2 separate regions of the Homo sapiens genome follow, and region 1 is linked to region 2. A link means that fine-mapping ties the variant in region 2 to the expression of a gene that starts in the linked region. Tissue or cell type: whole blood. Region 2 holds a variant in brackets; the other region holds the start of a gene. All regions are shown on one strand. Distances are between the middles of the regions.

Region 1 (8,183 bases), 49 kb before region 2:
AAACACCCCGTTCTTAAGTTTTTCTTATATAGTGATCTTACCTATGTAAAAGCTAGGCTAAGCTGTGCCTACATACGGGTGAGCAGACAACATGACAAATTTTGTTACTCTGTTGATTTAAAGAAGACAATTATTGACATTTTAGTGTGTGAATACGTAAAAGCATAACTGTGATTATCTTAAAGGCATATATTGTTGTAGATATTAGGACATTTGGACTTCTTGCTGTTGTAGGAGTCAGTCCTAGTTATCTTCAGGCTGTTTCCTTAATTATAAACATCCCATGACTATGGGTCGTGGCAGGCAAGGAATGTGCCTTGTTAGTCCTAAAATGGAGCTGAACTTAAAATGGCATTATTCTAGCTTTCCTAGGCTGCTGCTTCCCTAACACGTTGACAAACACATTGACAAACAGTAATTGTGAATTGTCATTCTAGCAAATAACCAACCAGATAGGAAACAAGTAGACAGAGTGACTATCTTAAATAGACCTATTCATTAATTTTATTTCATATGTCATACATTCATCGGTTTATTCATTCATTCATTCATTGCTCATTCTTTTTTATTTTTTTCCGAGACGGAAGTCTTGCTCTGTCACCCAGGCTGGAGTGCAGTGGCGCAATCTCAGCTCACTGCAACCTCCGCCTCCCGGGTTCAAGCAATTTTCCCGCCTCAGCCTCCCAAGTAGCTGGATTACAAACGGTGGGCACCAAATGTATTTTTAGTAGAGATGGGGGTTTCGCCATGTTAGCCAGGCTGTTCTCGAACTCCCGACCTTGTGATCCGCCGGCCTTGGCCTCCCAAAGTGCTGGGATTACAGGCGTGAGCCACGGCGCCCAGCCTACTCATTCTTCAACAAACATTTAACAACAAGTACTATGTGACCGACTCCGAACTGTCCACTTTCTTCCTATGGTTTGACAACAGAAAATTATAGAAAATCTAGCGCTGTCTTTACCCTTGTTTTATTTAAAACTGCCCTAACTTGAGTCTTCAGTTCTTCTTAGGGCTCCAGGAAAGGAGGGAGGATAAGAATACCTTGTACAATGTTAATAAGTTCTAGATTGCCAGATAGTGTATTCATCAAAATCTAACTGGAAAAAAATATGCCCTGGACACCTAAGAAGTTTATACTGCTTTTCTCCTTAAAATGAGGAAGCTGTAGAATATAACTGGTTAGAGAAAATAATATAACCACTTCAGATATCTGAAAGCCTCAGTCTCAAGAAGTCTCCCTGCTCTCTCTCTTTTCCCTTTTGAATTTACTATAGCTATTATCATTTTAGATTTTTCCCCCCAACTTCTTCTATCTAATCATTAAAAAGGAACTTGTCTTTTACTCGGCAGGCCAAATACTTGAGTATCTCATTTGACTGTCATAACAATGATGCAGAAAGACTGACAATAACAAAACTCAGAATATTGATTGCTTCATTGACAGTGGGAAATATCCCTATTTGGTAGGAGGAATGCCTGCGCTATCTGTCCAGGCACATGCTTCCCTAGAATTAGGTCCTTGGGAAGCAGATGTAGTACACAGATGGTTGCAGGGCCCAGGAAAACAGTGTATCTTGAGGAAAATTTTATCCCAGCTACAGTGAATTTAGAAGTCTGACAGCACAGCCTTCTCCTGTAAGAATTAACACCTCCCTAAGGACCCTTTTACCCTCGTTCCCCCAATTTGGTGTCTCTGTGCCAAGGGGAAGGAGACACTAGAACTCTAATTTTCCAATTTTCAAAAATTTCTAGCAGCAATGCTTCTGGATTAAGACATTCTTTGTGAAACTGATTTGGCTTCAGGCGAATCTTTCTCAAGGTGGCCTGGGATTCCTCTTTGAATCTATCTGATTTGTTATCTGCGAGGAGTCAAATTCTCAGGGTTCCTGGGACACCACCCACATTCCAATTTTCCTCTGGCAACAGATCTTGAAGACAAAGACAGACAGGCTAGAAATTGGGACTCTTTTTCTCTTGATTATACTTCTCATCCAATTTATACCCAGTCCTGTAATTCTTTTCGTGAAATGTCTCTCAAATCCTGTCTTCTCATCCCCACTATCAATACCTTATTTCCTGCTCTCTTCATTCTTGCCCTGCTGCAGTGGTTACCTTTTTAAAACACAGATCCGAACTTCTTACACCCCTTTCACCACTCTCCACTGCCTCCAGAAAAAACACAACTCAAGGCTCTTCAAAATATGACCGCAGCCTCCTTTCCTGGCATTCTCTCTTCCCCTCTTTCCCTCACTCCCCTCAAGTTGCAAACCACAAAGGATTCACCTAATGTTTCTCACACTTGGTAGGTGATTTCTTTTCTCTGAATGTGCTTTTCCTGTTTTCTCCGTTCTCTGAGTTTGCTTTTCCTGTTTTCTCTCTGGTGAATTATTCATCTTTTAAAGTTCACCTTAAATGTTTTATCCTTGGTGAATCTTTCTAGATGCTTCTTGGGCCAGTGGATTTTAGGAGAGCGAGGTATATGTGGCTGAGGTACATCACAATCAGCAGAGAAGCTTTAAACACTGCTGAGAGTCACTGTCCCTGCTGGCCTTGGGTTTCTTCTTTATTCACTCTTCCTTTTTTTGAGACGGAGTCTCGCCCTGTCGCCCAGGCTGGAGTGCAATGGCGCGTGATCTCGTCTCACTGCAACCTCTGCCTCCCAGGTTCTGTAGCAGGATGAGCCGCAGACAAAACTCCTCAGACACGGAGTTAAAGAAGGAAGGGGTTTATTCGGCCGGAAGTATCGGCAAGCCTCCTGTCTCAAGAGCCTAGCTCCCCGAGTGAGCAATTCCTGTCCCTTTTAAGGGCTCACAACTCTAAGGGGGTCCGCGTGAGAGGGTCATGATCAATTGAGCAAGCAGAGGGTACTGTGAATGGGGGCTGCATGCACCGGTAATCAGAACGAAACAGAACAGGACAGGGATTTTTACAATGCCTTTCCATATAATGTCTGGAATCCATAGATAACATAACCGGTTAGGTCAGGGGTCGATCTTTAACTACCGGGCTTAGGTCAGGCAGGCCCAGGCCTGGTTTCGGGTCTGGTTCTTAGGCGCCGGGTTACCTGCCTTTAATTTCGCTTCTCTTTCCTTTTCTGAGTATAAAACTATATGAGAGGTTCTGTCTCTCTTCTCTCAGTTCAAGCGATTCTCCTGCCTCAGCCACCCGAGTAGCTGGGTACAGTCACGCGCCACCCATGCCCGGCTAATTTTTTTGTATCTTTTAGTAGAGATGGGGTTTCACTACGCTGGCCAGGCTGGTCTCAAACTCCTGACCTCGTGATCTGCCCGCCTCGGCCTCCCGAAGTGCTGGGATTACAAGTGTGAGCCACCGCACCCGGCCCTCATTTTTACAAATGTAATTGAGTACTTGTTTGTGTACACTAGTAGACGATGTGCTTCTTGAGAGTAAAGCCCAGGTGTTCTACATCCATGGTTCAATTAATGCATTGGTATCTTTTCCAACCTATGGCATTTGAGATACAACTTCAAAAGGATCTGCTGACAGAAATAGGGCAAAGTGGTTCTGGTATTTTTTTTTTTTAAGTTTTTTTCTCACTAATGTTCTTATGATTTCGCTGTACTGCAATGTTAGCTGAAACAGCACAGATATCAGGAATGGCATTGTTAAGACTGACCTTAGACAAAAACCCTGAAGTGAGAGGTTACATTTTGGGTTCTCACCATACTCTTCCCCCGCTCTTGTCCTAATTGTCTAAAGCTTGCTTCCCTTCCTCATCGTATCAGCCTCCCACCTGAATCTTCCCTTTTCCTCCTTCACACTCATCTTTCTTGTGCCCCTGTCCCCCATTTTTCCCTTTTGTAAGCCATTTTCATAAGGATCCTTCCAAATATTTCCCCTATTGATTGGACAACCCGTAGGTGGCAGACTGTTCTGGGCCAAGGCAACCAAGTTGAGCAGGGCCAGCAATCAGTGTCGGGAACTTCTGCAGGGCACTTCAGAATCAGTGTTGGGAACTTCTGCTTTCTATTTTTCACGGACACAGACAGGAACACAGATATGCGAAAGCAAAACAATCAAAAAGCATTTTCATTTGTTTTTCAGGTAGTAGGAAAGAGTTCCAGATTCCCATCCTTCTGAAGCCAGGAGGGAGGTTCCTAAGAGGAGGTTAGGGCAAGATGGAGACTTCTTTTTAAACTAGTAGATTTCGCAAATTGCAACACATACATTATCTAGTCCACGCAAAGGACAGGCCTTGGGGACACGGCACGGGGAACGTGTTCCACCTGGACGACTGAATCAGAAGTCTCTCCCCCATCAATTGAACGCCTCATTATTTTTCTTTCTGTCTTTTCTTTCTTTTTAAGGTAAATGAATTGCTTCTTTTTCGTTAGGTGAGGCCGGCAGAGAACAAGAAGAGCTGAAACGGAGGCGAGGTTAGTACCCAGCAAAGACCTGTGGCGAGGAGAGACAATGAAGAGGACCACGGGACTGGACCCTGAGAAAGGCAGAGGAGACGCTGGCTGGTGGGGCCCGCAGGCGGACAGCCACGCAGGCAGGCGGAAGGCTCGGCTCGGCCTGGGACCGCTGCAGACCCGGCCTCCGCGCGGGGCCGAGGCGCCTGGGTGGGACCGAGGAGGCGGGGCCTTCCCGGCGGACGGATGATGGACAGCCTGACTCTCCAATCGCGTCCTTAAAAGGGTGCGGGCAGGCCAATGAGCGGACAGCGAGGGCCGGAGTGGGGCTGAGGCTTCGGTGCAGAGCTGGAGAGCCGCGGCTGGGACCGGAGTGGGGAGCGCGGCGTGGAGGTGCCACCCGGCGCGGGTGGCGGAGAGATCAGAAGCCTCTTCCCCAAGCCGAGCCAACCTCAGCGGGGACCCGGGCTCAGGGACGCGGCGGCGGCGGCGGCGACTGCAGTGGCTGGACGATGGCAGCGTCCGCCGGAGCCGGGGCGGTGATTGCAGCCCCAGACAGCCGGCGCTGGCTGTGGTCGGTGCTGGCGGCGGCGCTTGGGCTCTGTAAGTGATGCCAGGACCAGGGCTGGGGCCGGGGAGTGGGGCCCCCGGGCCCGACACACGCCCATCGCGGCGGTCGCAGGCCAGGCGCGCGCACTGAGAGCCGAGGTGGGGAGGGGGCGCGGCCTGCGCTCTCTGGGGCCGAGGGGACCCAGCCCATGGGGAACGCGGGCCTCCGCGACTGGCCGGGAAGGCGCAGAGCCTCTTTCTTCTCTTTCCTGGATCCTGGAGTGCGGAGGAGGAGGGGAGAGTGCTTTACCTTGCTCCTTCCCGGGGGGCGGTCCAGGGGAGCGGACCCGGCGGGCGGCTGCGGTGAGCCCTCGCGGCGCACCCTGCCCTCTCCTCGTGGTGACTCTGGATCGTCTAGGCCCTCCCGGATTCTGACTCAGGAACTAGGGTTCTGGCGTTCTTCACCTTTGGGAGGTGGCGGAAAGTTGCAGGTTTTTCATTTGTAGGGCCTTTGTTGATTTGTTTCCTGTTAAGCCAGGGTTTTGTTGTAAGTTCCCTTTCCCATGCTCTCATTCAGTTTTAAGTCTCCGTAATAAAAGAGTCTCATTTCCGTGGTCTGCAAAACGCCAATAAAAAAATATTGTTACTTCTAGGTTAGAATGCAAAGAGCTTGGAATACCAGTGAGATGGCCTGGCTTAAAAGAATTTGGTCAAATCCATCATAATTCCAGACGTAGCCACCATAATTTGACAAGACATAGAGCATTAAAAAGCATAATTTTCCTAAAGGAAAAAAAAAGCTCCTTTTTCTTACCAAATATTGTGACTCAAGCTTAAGGTAAACCTCGGGCTCAATTTATGGGAATTGGATGACTTGTTTTATGGACATCTGAAGTGGTATCTGCCACAGGACTTTTCTGTGTTGTTGTTCAAAGCAAAGTACTTGTTGCTGTCTCCGAATTTAGTTAAATAATAGTTATAAAGAGGGCCAGCTGCTAAGAAACCACGTAGATTTTTTTCATTCCCTTTGTTTTCAAAATGTCAGTTATGATTTAGCATCACAGTATCTGAATACCAGAGTTTACTCAGTAATTTCTTTCTTCATGGAAAAGTTCTTAATATAATCCTTGGATCAGGGAAACTAGGTGAAGTTCTGTTGGATCACCAACTGTTCCACTTAAACAGTGATTCCAGGGGCTGTAAAGCATAAATGTAAAAGTCTCCCTACCCTCCAGGGGTTGACAGATGATGACACACTTTGTGTAAGACACAATCCATTCTGTATTTTGTCTTAGAAAAAAAGGTTAAAAGTGTGTTTGTTGGTGGTGGTATTTGTGTTTAATCAAACAAGTAGAAAATAGCCTAAAATTAAGGTTTATCAGAAATATGCTTCAGACAGAATTGTTATGCATGAGAGGTCAGACATTGCTATGGAGGACAAAGCAGTTAGGGTGATCTTAATTAAAATCAGGGTATTAAACGTAGAAGGAGTGCAAAACTACATAGTAGTGAAAAGATCACTAGAGTAATAGCCCCATACAACTTGGACGTAACTCTTCAGTAATGAAGATGAATGTTGATATGTAAAAATCAGCAGCTGATGTTATTGGTTCAACTTAGAAAATTATTGAATCTAAAATTCTTGCCAAATCACCTCTTTTCTGGTCATGGATACTGCACATAAGAGTTTATCTTTTACAGGATAGCTTCTAAAGTTTTATCAAGACAGTTACTCAGCAAACATTCACTGAGCACCTTTTAAGTGCTTAACACTTAAAAGGTGGGAGGTTAGGTCTCACTGTGTTGCCCAGGCTGCTCTGGAACTGAAACTCCTGGGCTCCAGTGATTCCTCTGCCTTTTCCTCGCAAGCAGCTGGGGCTACAGGTGTGTGCCACTGTGTAGGGTCAGAAGCACATTGGTAAAGATGTACTGTGGGAGCTTGAAGGAGGGTCATTATCTCAGACTGTAGTTCAGGCTACTGGAGGAAGGGAGTTTAAACTGGGTAGGCATGGGGGAGGGGCAGAAGTACATACAGAGTTATGAATGAACCTGTTGGTAGTTCAGTATAGTGGGAGGTTGGAGTGTATATAAGGGGAATGGTGGGAGTTGAGGCAGGAGAGCCTGCCAAGGGCACCAGCTTACAAAGGGCCTTGTCTGCCACACTTAATCCAATGAGGATTTCTCTGTCTATTGAGATGTGAAGGATGGGTTAGAGTGGGGTGAGGCTGAAGCCAGAGAAGGCAGAGGACTATTGTAATAATCCCGGGGAGGATGATGAAGATCTGAATTCAAGCATTGGGCTATGAAGAGAGGACACATGTTGATGCGCCACTTAGAAAGTACGTTTGATAGAGCTTGGAAACATTGATGCAGGCTTGAAAGAGGAGGTGGATAAAATGATCATAGGTTTTGGGCTTGGGAAGCTGGGCATATTTTTGGCCTTTTCACAGATGGGGAAATAGGAGTCTTGGGGGAAGAAGATGATGGAGATACTTTTGAATATGTTGAGTTTGAGATGCGGGTAAGACATCCAAATGGAGATGGGCAGAAAACAATTGGATAGACAGTTCTGGAGGTGAGGAGAAAGTTCTGGTTGGAAATGGAGATTTAGAGAGTTATGTGGCTAATAGTTAAAGCTTGGATTGTTTGGATGAGGGCATCCAGGGAAAATGCACTGAAGAACATAGCAGAGAGCCAAAGACGGAGTTTTGGGGTATATGAAACCTGACAAAGAGTCTCTGTGAGTAAGAGAAAAACCAGGTGAGTTTGGTATTTCAGCATTGTCAGATGAAGAGAGATAAAATGTGATAAGAATTCACTGAATTTGGTAATTGAAATGAGCACATAGTATATGAGGACTAAATCTCAGTAATTTGTACCATCCATGTCAGTAAATGGAACCTCCATACATCTAATTGTGCAGGCCAGAAACCTAGGGTCCATCCCTGATTCTTCCCTGTCCTTCACATCCAATCAGTTCTCCCATCTTTAAAATGCATCTGGAATTGATGTTTTTTCTACCTCCACTCCTAGCCTTTTAGTCAAAGTCACCACCATTTCTTGCCTATATTACTGTGATAGCCTCCCAGCTGCTCTTCCTCTTTTTCCCCCTCTGGAGTCTTGCTCTGTCTCGCCCAGGCTGGAATGCAGTGGCACAATCTCGGCTTACTGCAACCTCCATCTCCCAGATTCAAGTGATTCTTCTTGTGCCTCAGCATCCCAAGTAGCTGGGACTACAGGCATGCACCACCATGCCTG
Region 2 (8,183 bases):
CTTGCTCTCACCTAGAGATGATTAGGAGGAAGGCTGATATATAGATGACTTTGGAGTAAGATAAAGGATGTAACAGAAATACAGCACCAGAGCATTGAAAAAAGGTTATTTAGTAACTAGTGGAGTGCTGGTTATTAAACATGAACTGACTATCTTGGTTCTGGTCTGTAAAATGGAGACGATAAAACCTCCCACACAAGGGTGTTAGGAGGATAAAGTAAGATTATTCAAGATAAGTGCTCAGGAGAGTGTCTAGCTCTTGAGTTACTAAAATACACCATTTGTTGTTACTGTTGCTCTCCCAGCATGTGGAATGCCCTTCATATATTGGCACATATTTTAGTACTGTTGCATGTTTCAGGTTGTCAGTGTTTAGCAAGGACAGTCTGTCATCTATCTTTAAGAATGCCCAATTCTTCTTCTGAATGGTGAGTTACATTGTTGATCACCACCTAGATGTTGGGCCCATCATATGCCTATGCCATTTAATCTTCACAGCTCTATGAGGAAGACAGGGTGGGGAGGATGGGAGACACTGACTCAAGAGTTATTCACCTGTGGCCATACCACACAGGTTAGAATTGTTTAAACTTCAATACGGTATGATTTCCCTTATGTATTATTTCTCTCTCAGGTAGAAAAATCTGCTAATAATATTTACGGCCTCATAGGTTTTAGGGATTACCTAAGGCAGTGCTTCTCAGTATTTTTTAAAATTTATTTTTAAAAGGAGCCTTTTCACATTTTTCTTAATCTCTGCCCCCTTCCATGAAATTTTAATATTGTAGATATCCTCTGCAACTGTTTTACATATAAAAGAGAAAGATTTTCTCAAAGCTTCCCACCCAAGAGCCAGTGTTTGCTCCCTTGGGGGAGAATCTCCCCTATGGAGAATGCATAGTCTAGAGGTCTTTATAAGAGAGGCCTTCCCTTACAGTAGCCATAAGGGTGAGCACAGGAATCCATACAGATACCATGGAAAGACATAAAGAGGCATTCTCTGCTTCACGTAAATATGGCATCAGCATAGAACATACACTAATGTTCCCATAGAGGCAAGATTAAACACATAAGTTTACTCAAGAGAGTCCAAAGAACTATTTAAACATTTAAAGATTTCCCACTGAAGTCTTCTGCAAGAGTGGGTGTGAGAGCCACCCAGAGGTAATAACTTTCTTTTAAAGAGCGGTTCCATTTATGCTGGAAACAGTCTTGTCGTGTAGGTCCATGAAGGTTTACATAACTCAAAACTTAATATTAAGAACATGCTGTAATTCTGATTAATATTTTTAGCTAATCAATTTATACTTACACACGAGTCTGATTGCAGTTAATCCCAGCATGTTCAGTTATTGACATAGGATCCTTTAATTCCAAAATGTCGGGACACATTTAATAAGATGAGTGGGTTGCTTTTTTGTTTTTATAGGTTTTACAGGAAAAGTATATTCAAACCCAGTATATTCAAAAGCCATACTGTGGATGGCTTTTTTGGCCCATGGCCTTGGGATCCACATGTCTGAAACTGAACTCATTTTTTCTCCCTTCTGTTTCCCTTTTCTGCTTTTTTTTTTTTTTTTTTTTTTTAGGTTAATTGTGTTCATCTGCAGATGAGTTTTGTAATCATTTTGTTTTGTTTTGTTTTGTTTTGTTTTGTTTTGTTTTGTGTTTTCTGTCCTTTCCTTCCCTGTCCCTTACCACTTCCCTTCTGCCCCCAAGAAATAAGAACCTTTGCTGGTTCTTCCTACTTTGTTTCTGGTGTCTAGCTTTTTGTCAGCCTTCCTGTGTCTCTGCTGTCTATTGAGCAATGTTAACTGTGTGCCTGGTCTTGTGCAGTAGCCCCTTGTTATTCTTCTGCTTCTGTTTTTCTCATCTTTCAATCCAACCCTCATATGCCAGCAGGTGCATAGTCTTAGAACAGCTCTTTCACCTTGCCACTGCAGGTTATCAGGAACCTAGATTCCCATTGTGGACAACATTTGTCTAGAATTAAAAGCTCATTACAATTTGGCCCAGCCTACCACTTTAGCCTCACTTCTGTTCTCTTATGGCATCACTTCCAGTTTAGTAAAAATGCTTTGTGCTTTGTTTTCCTACTTCTGAACACTTGTCATTTAAGCTGTACCCCATTTTTACCCTCTGTCTCCTCCATAATGCCTCTTTTTTTTTTTTTAACCTTTTAGCCCTTAAAACTCACTACCCTTATCTGGGCCATTCCTATAATACAGATCCCTTAATATGACAGTTTTCCTCTTCTTCCTGAATATGGGTGTTTTAAGAGGACTTGCCTGTCTTACATCTTTAGTATACCTCATAGCTTTAGCACCATGGCTTGTACTTTAAAAATATTGATTGATAATGATTCTAGTCTTTTCTGTGAATTTTTCACTGTTTTATTTCCATCTCTCACTGGTTTGACCAAGACGTTATTCCTCAGTTTGATTCAGCAAACTATGTAGTTCCTGCTGTGTCCAAAGTGCTAAGGAGTACAGAGATAAATACATCTTATCCTCTGCCTTCAAATGGCCCCCATTCAATGAGGGAGCCTGACTGAGGGAGCTGTCTCAGACCCAGTGCTGAGAAACAGCATCATGTAGCTCATCCCCGCTGGTTCAGAAATGCAAGGCAGGGAATATGTGGAGATGTTGTGGGAAGGGAAGGCAGAGAGCAGGTGATGGAAGGATTCATTTGCAAAGCTGAGAGTTTATGGTTCATTTTCTAGTGAAGAAGAGAGAGTGAAGAACTTTGAACAGATAAGACATGATCTCACCTGAGAGGCCTTAAACATTGGAAATAGCATAAGCTTTGAAATCAGAGCTGAGTTTGAATTCCATCTCTAAAACCTGTGACTTTGGGAAAGTCACCAAGGTTTCCTGAGCCTCACATTCCCTATTTATGAAATATCAGGTAGGCGAATCTCACCTTGCAGGGTGGTTGTGAGGGCTAGAGAGTTGTTGGGAGACAGTTTTCTATGGGTCTTTCACGTTTTTGCACACCTTGCTAGCAAAGGCACTGGCTGCCTTTGTTCTGGACTTTTTTTATACAGTAACTAGCTTTGGAAGGCAGAGATGATGTTACCCTCTGGAGCAAAGGACAAATTTGTGTATTCTTGAGTATAGTAAAGGTAGTGTCTCCTTTCAGGGCTGAAGTCAGACATGTCTTCTGCCCCTTGTAAGAGAATAGTGTTCCCTGAGCTTGGGGTTCCTCGGCTGTGATGCAACGCCTCTGCCTGCACAACATCCATGTGAGCCCCTCCATGTCATGGCTATGGGACTTGCGGGGCAAGAGAAACAAACACATGCTTTCTGCTCATAAGGTTCTTTGTTTCTGAGTCTTCTTCATGGGAGTGAAGATTTCACAGGAGTCCGTGTCTTCTGTCAGCACCTATGAACCTGTGGCCAACTAACTTTGTTAGCTTGTAAGTAGGGTAAAATCTCAGACCCTTCACGGTTCTTAACAAGCATTTAGGTCATATGAAATGCAGGGTAAATATTTGATAAATGTTATAATAATAACCATTATTCTTTATCAGTGATCATTTAGGCATTGTGGAAGATGATGAGTTAGACATACCAGTTAAGAGGCCATAGTCCAAGATGATGAAAACATAAAAACAGATATTGTCAGTGGGAACCGAATAGAGAGAAGAGAGAACTGAGAGAAACTAATGAGACATTGACAATATTGGGGGATTAACTGGATAGGAAGAAAGAGAATCAAGGATGACTTCAAGATTTATGGTTTTGGAAAGAAACAGTAGCCATCAGTGAAGACACGATACATGAAGAGGGGAAGATGAAGTTTGTAAGAGAGGGTGACAAGCTTGGGGGAGAGGGGCAGCCAGGTGGTAAAGTGAGTAGGCAAGGAGTCTAGAGCTTAGGGGACGCTATTGATGGAGAGAGAGGTTTGGGAGTTAAGAAAATCTAGATGATCATTAAATCATAGGAATGGATGAGTCTGCACTGGGGTTTTCACCGTGCTCAAAGGGTTCTGAAAATGTTCTGTTTGAATTGCTAATAGAGCTGGTTTCTATCCCCAGCTCCACCATCACCCCGTCCATTAACCAGAACAAAGACATCAGGCCTCCAGCATAGCTGCTTGGATTAGAGCCAAGTGTGAGGATAGATCCCCTCCCACTGGGCCTTAACCCTGCTTCCAGGTGCTGAGTTTGACAAGGTTTACTTTGAGAAGACAGTTCCTTTGCTGAAAGCAGGACTGAGGAGAGACTGAGGAGTGGAA[A/G]GAGAAAGGGGCTAAAGGCTGAACTTTCAAAAGCCGGCAAGAGTATCTTGTGTTATCTGGGCTTTGTTCCTTTCACACACCCATGACTTTTCCATAGGAAACCAGAAGGAAGAGGGCGAAACTCAGATTAGCTGATCTGAGATATTTAGGATTCTTCTCCTTTGTGCTTCTGTGTATCTTAGTGGTAAGCTAACTCAACACTAAGCTTTCTGAAGCCTTGGGAATCACTGGGCTCAATCATGGTGTTACTGGAAGAACATTGGCTTTGAAGACTCAGATGGGCCTAAATTTTACTCTGGGTCCCCAATTTACTATCATTGGTACCTTGGGAAAATGGCTTCTCTTAAGTCTCCATTTTGTCTTTTATAAAATTATGGGTGGTAATAATTATATCAATGAAATATTGAGAGGATTAGAGGTGATATATGAGTCTGATTCTTCCATTGAAACCTGGCAGGGTTGAGTGCCGTGATCTCTAAACTTCTGTCTGGCTTAGATTCCATAACTTGTGATTTGTAATATGATGTTGCATTTCTTTTTTTTTTTTTTTTTAATTGATCATTCTTGGGTGTTTCTCGGAGAGGGGGATGTGGCAGGGTCATAGGATAATAGTGGAGAGAAGGTCAACACGTGAACAAAGGTCTCTGGTTTTCCTAGGCAGAGGTCCCTGCGGCCTTCCGCAGTGTTTGTGTCCCTGGGTACTTGAGATTAGGGAGTGGTGATGACTCTTAACGAGTATGCTGCCTTCAAGCATCTGTTTAACAAAGCACATCTTGCACCGCCCTTAATCCATTTCACCCTGAGTTGACACAGCACATGTTTCAGAGAGCATGGGGTTGGGGGTAAGGTTTATAGATTAACAGCATCCCAAGGCAGAAGAATTTTTCTTAGTACAGAACAAAATGGAGTCTCCTATGTCTACTTCTTTCTACACAGACACAGTAACAATCTGATCTCTCTTTCTTTTCCCCACATTTCCCCCTTTTCTTTTTGACAAAACCGCCATCGTCATCATGGCCCGTTCTCAATGGTCGCTGTCTCTTCGGAGCTGTTGGGTACACGTGCAGAAAGGCTGTCACTTCACACTTGGAAGATTGCACAGCGGCCAGGCAGAGGCGCTCCTCACTTCCCAGACGGGGTGGTGGCCGGGCAGAGGCGCTCCTCACTTCCCAGACAGGGTGGCCGGGCAGAGGGGCTCCTCACATCCCAGAGGATGGGCGGCCAGGCAGAGACGCTCCTCACTTCCTAGATGGGGTGGCAGCTGGGCAGAGGCTGTAATCTTAGTACTTTGGGAGACCAAGGCAGGTGGCTGGGAGGTGGAGGTTGCAGCGAGCCGAGATCACACCACTGCACTCCAGCCTGGGCAGCATTGAGCATTGAGTGAGCAAGACTCCATCTGCAAACCCAGCACCTTGGGAGGCTGAGGCAGGCAGAACACTCCAGGTCAGGAGCTGGAGGCCAGCCCGGTCAACACGGCAAAACCCCTCTCCACCAAAAATACAAAAACCAGTCAGGCGTGGCCGCACGTGCCTGCAATCCCAGGCAGTCGGCAGCCCGAGGCAGGAGAATCACAGGAGCCCGAGGCAGGGAGGTTGCAGCGAGCCAAGATCACGGCAGTACAGTCCAGCCTCAGCAACAGAGGGAGACCGAAAAAAGGAGGAGAGAGAGGGGGAGAGGGAGAGGGAGAGAGATGTTGCATTTCTTTCCGTATGAAGTCTTTAAAAGAACCTTTCATAGCATGCACATTACAGAGTTTAGGAATTCTGCCTTTGAGAATAGTTCATGTGTTCCTTTTTTCTAATTGCAGTTTTTCCACTACTCCCAAGGGCAAGTGTACCTTGGGAATTATCCACCATTTAAAGACAGAATCAGCTGGGCTGGAGACCTTGACAAGAAAGATGCATCAATCAACATAGAAAATATGCAGTTTATACACAATGGCACCTATATCTGTGATGTCAAAAACCCTCCTGACATCGTTGTCCAGCCTGGACACATTAGGCTCTATGTCGTAGAAAAAGGTACTTCCTTGAGTATTTTGGCAGTAATAATGCAGTCTCCTTTATCTCATGTTTGGTTGGAAAACATGAGTTGCATTTCATGGTGGGTTTGGAGGGAGGATTTTTGCCATACAGTTGTGCTCCCTGTTGCCACGAACCTGTGGCTCTACCAAACACACTTGGAGCTGGGAAACTTGTTGCTCATTCTGACCCAGAGTGGCTGATTTCTCCATTTTTATTCCTACCGTCTGGTGCCTATTGGTCTAATTTCAGGAGTATGAATTTTTCAGTGTTAATTAGAAGAAAGACCAAATTCATTATGTTTGGATGTGATGGGCAGTGGGAAAGAAGGAGATTCATACTGTTTTATATTCTCCAGGAGAAAGCTTTCAACAACAGCACAGTTATTTCTTCCTTTTGATTTTGAGAACAAACAGGAAATGCAGGTTCTGGTGTCTCATTTTTGAGACAAAGTCTGTTTTGTTGGAGAGTAGATCCAGGTAAATTCACACCTCCGGTTTTTCTTTAGAGCACTGAGAGGGATTGTAGGTGTAGAAATGCTTAGTTCCATAGTTCATTCTTTCTCATCTAATATTCACATGTCATGAATTACATAGTAATAGGATAGATAGTAGGATCTCATAGTTTGGATAATAAAAGAGGGTACGGTAACTGCTAAATGAAGATACTTGCTCGTTAATTTAATAAAATTCCATGTTTTCTCTCTGTAGCAATGTACCTTAAAACTATTTTGTTCTTTCTCTCTAGAGAATTTGCCTGTGTTTCCAGTTTGGGTAGTGGTGGGCATAGTTACTGCTGTGGTCCTAGGTCTCACTCTGCTCATCAGCATGATTCTGGCTGTCCTCTATAGAAGGAAAAACTCTAAACGGGATTACACTGGGTAAGAAACACTGTTTTTTTAGGGCAGGGGTGGAGGGAGGGAATCAGGGTTTATAGAAACTTCTGTATTTAATGAAAAAAGGATTTTAAAGAATTAACTACTATTTTCTTTCATGTCAGAATCAGGCAGTCTCCTTAGGAGGTGTTCTAACATGGGCAAGTGGAAATCAGTGGGCCTGCTATTAAATGTGGAATATGATTCTAATCTCTGTTCCAGTTTCCTTCTTAGGTTTGGTGAGATGAGCTGCTCAGCAGTCTGTGCTCTGTGTTTCAATACCATCCACTATGCAATTAGTATTCTTAAGACATCACTTACCCAATTTAAGAGTTTAATTTCAATTTCTTGCTAATAAACTCACAAGGTGGTTCTTTCCAGTTAGGAAATATAAAACCCTAATTAAGAAGTTGTGAGCTGGAATTAGTGGCATGTGCCTGTAAGTCCCAGCTACTTAGGCTGTGGCAGGAGGATTGCTTGAGCCGAGGCGTTTGAATCTAGCCTAGGCAACATAGCAAGATCCTGTCTCTTTAAAAAAAAAAAAAAAGAAAGAAAGAAAGAAGAAGAAAAAGCAGTGGTTTTAATAAACTACCTCCCCCAGCCCAGTGTGATGATGGTGCAGGGCTTTTCCTTTTTGTAGTTCCCCTACCCCACTCCAAGCTTAAGTAGCTTTATTGCTTTGATCATTCTTAGCTAGATTCACCCAAAATGGGATAATAAGAATTGATGACAAAATATATCAGCAATAAAGAAAAATAGACTTTCTTTTTGTTTATGGCTTCTCAGATGGAACACGTTTAAGCATAGGGTGTGTATCTAATTAAAGGACCTTCTCTTTTCCCCACTCCAGCTGGAAAGCTAACCCATATAAGCTATGTAGAACTCATGTGGTAAGACTGGGAGCAGAGGCTGGATTCAAGTTGATATAGCATGAGCAGTGTTGCAGATGCACAGATCTAACTTTAGCCATCCTGAAGGGACTCTGATGTGAAAGGATTGCATGTCCTGAACTCTCTTGCTGGTGGATGGTGGGAACCTCTATCTATGGG

Evidence for each region. PIP is the estimated chance that this variant, and not a neighbour inherited with it, causes the effect.
Region 1: it holds the start of MPZL1, and the variant in region 2 is fine-mapped to the expression of MPZL1 in whole blood (TOPMed, PIP above 0.99). The same link has a PIP of 0.9 or more in blood mononuclear cells.

Annotation. Positions count from the first base shown.
Region 1 is chr1:167,717,264-167,725,446 of GRCh38, forward strand. It overlaps MPZL1 (myelin protein zero like 1), which reads left to right and starts at 4,719. Exons shown (of 6, transcript NM_003953.6): 1 at 4,719-4,979. The coding sequence starts at 4,889. RefSeq lists enhancers at 2,321-2,820, 5,047-5,547 and silencers at 4,359-4,728, 5,119-5,188, 5,219-5,358.
Region 2 is chr1:167,766,229-167,774,411 of GRCh38, forward strand. MPZL1 (myelin protein zero like 1) reads left to right here. Exons shown (of 6, transcript NM_003953.6): 3 at 6,047-6,260; 4 at 7,008-7,140. Among named protein-coding and RNA genes, the nearest start is that of MPZL1, 48 kb to the left of the region's middle. RefSeq lists enhancers at 3,772-4,343, 5,278-5,779. The variant A/G (reference allele first, on the strand shown) is at 4,240.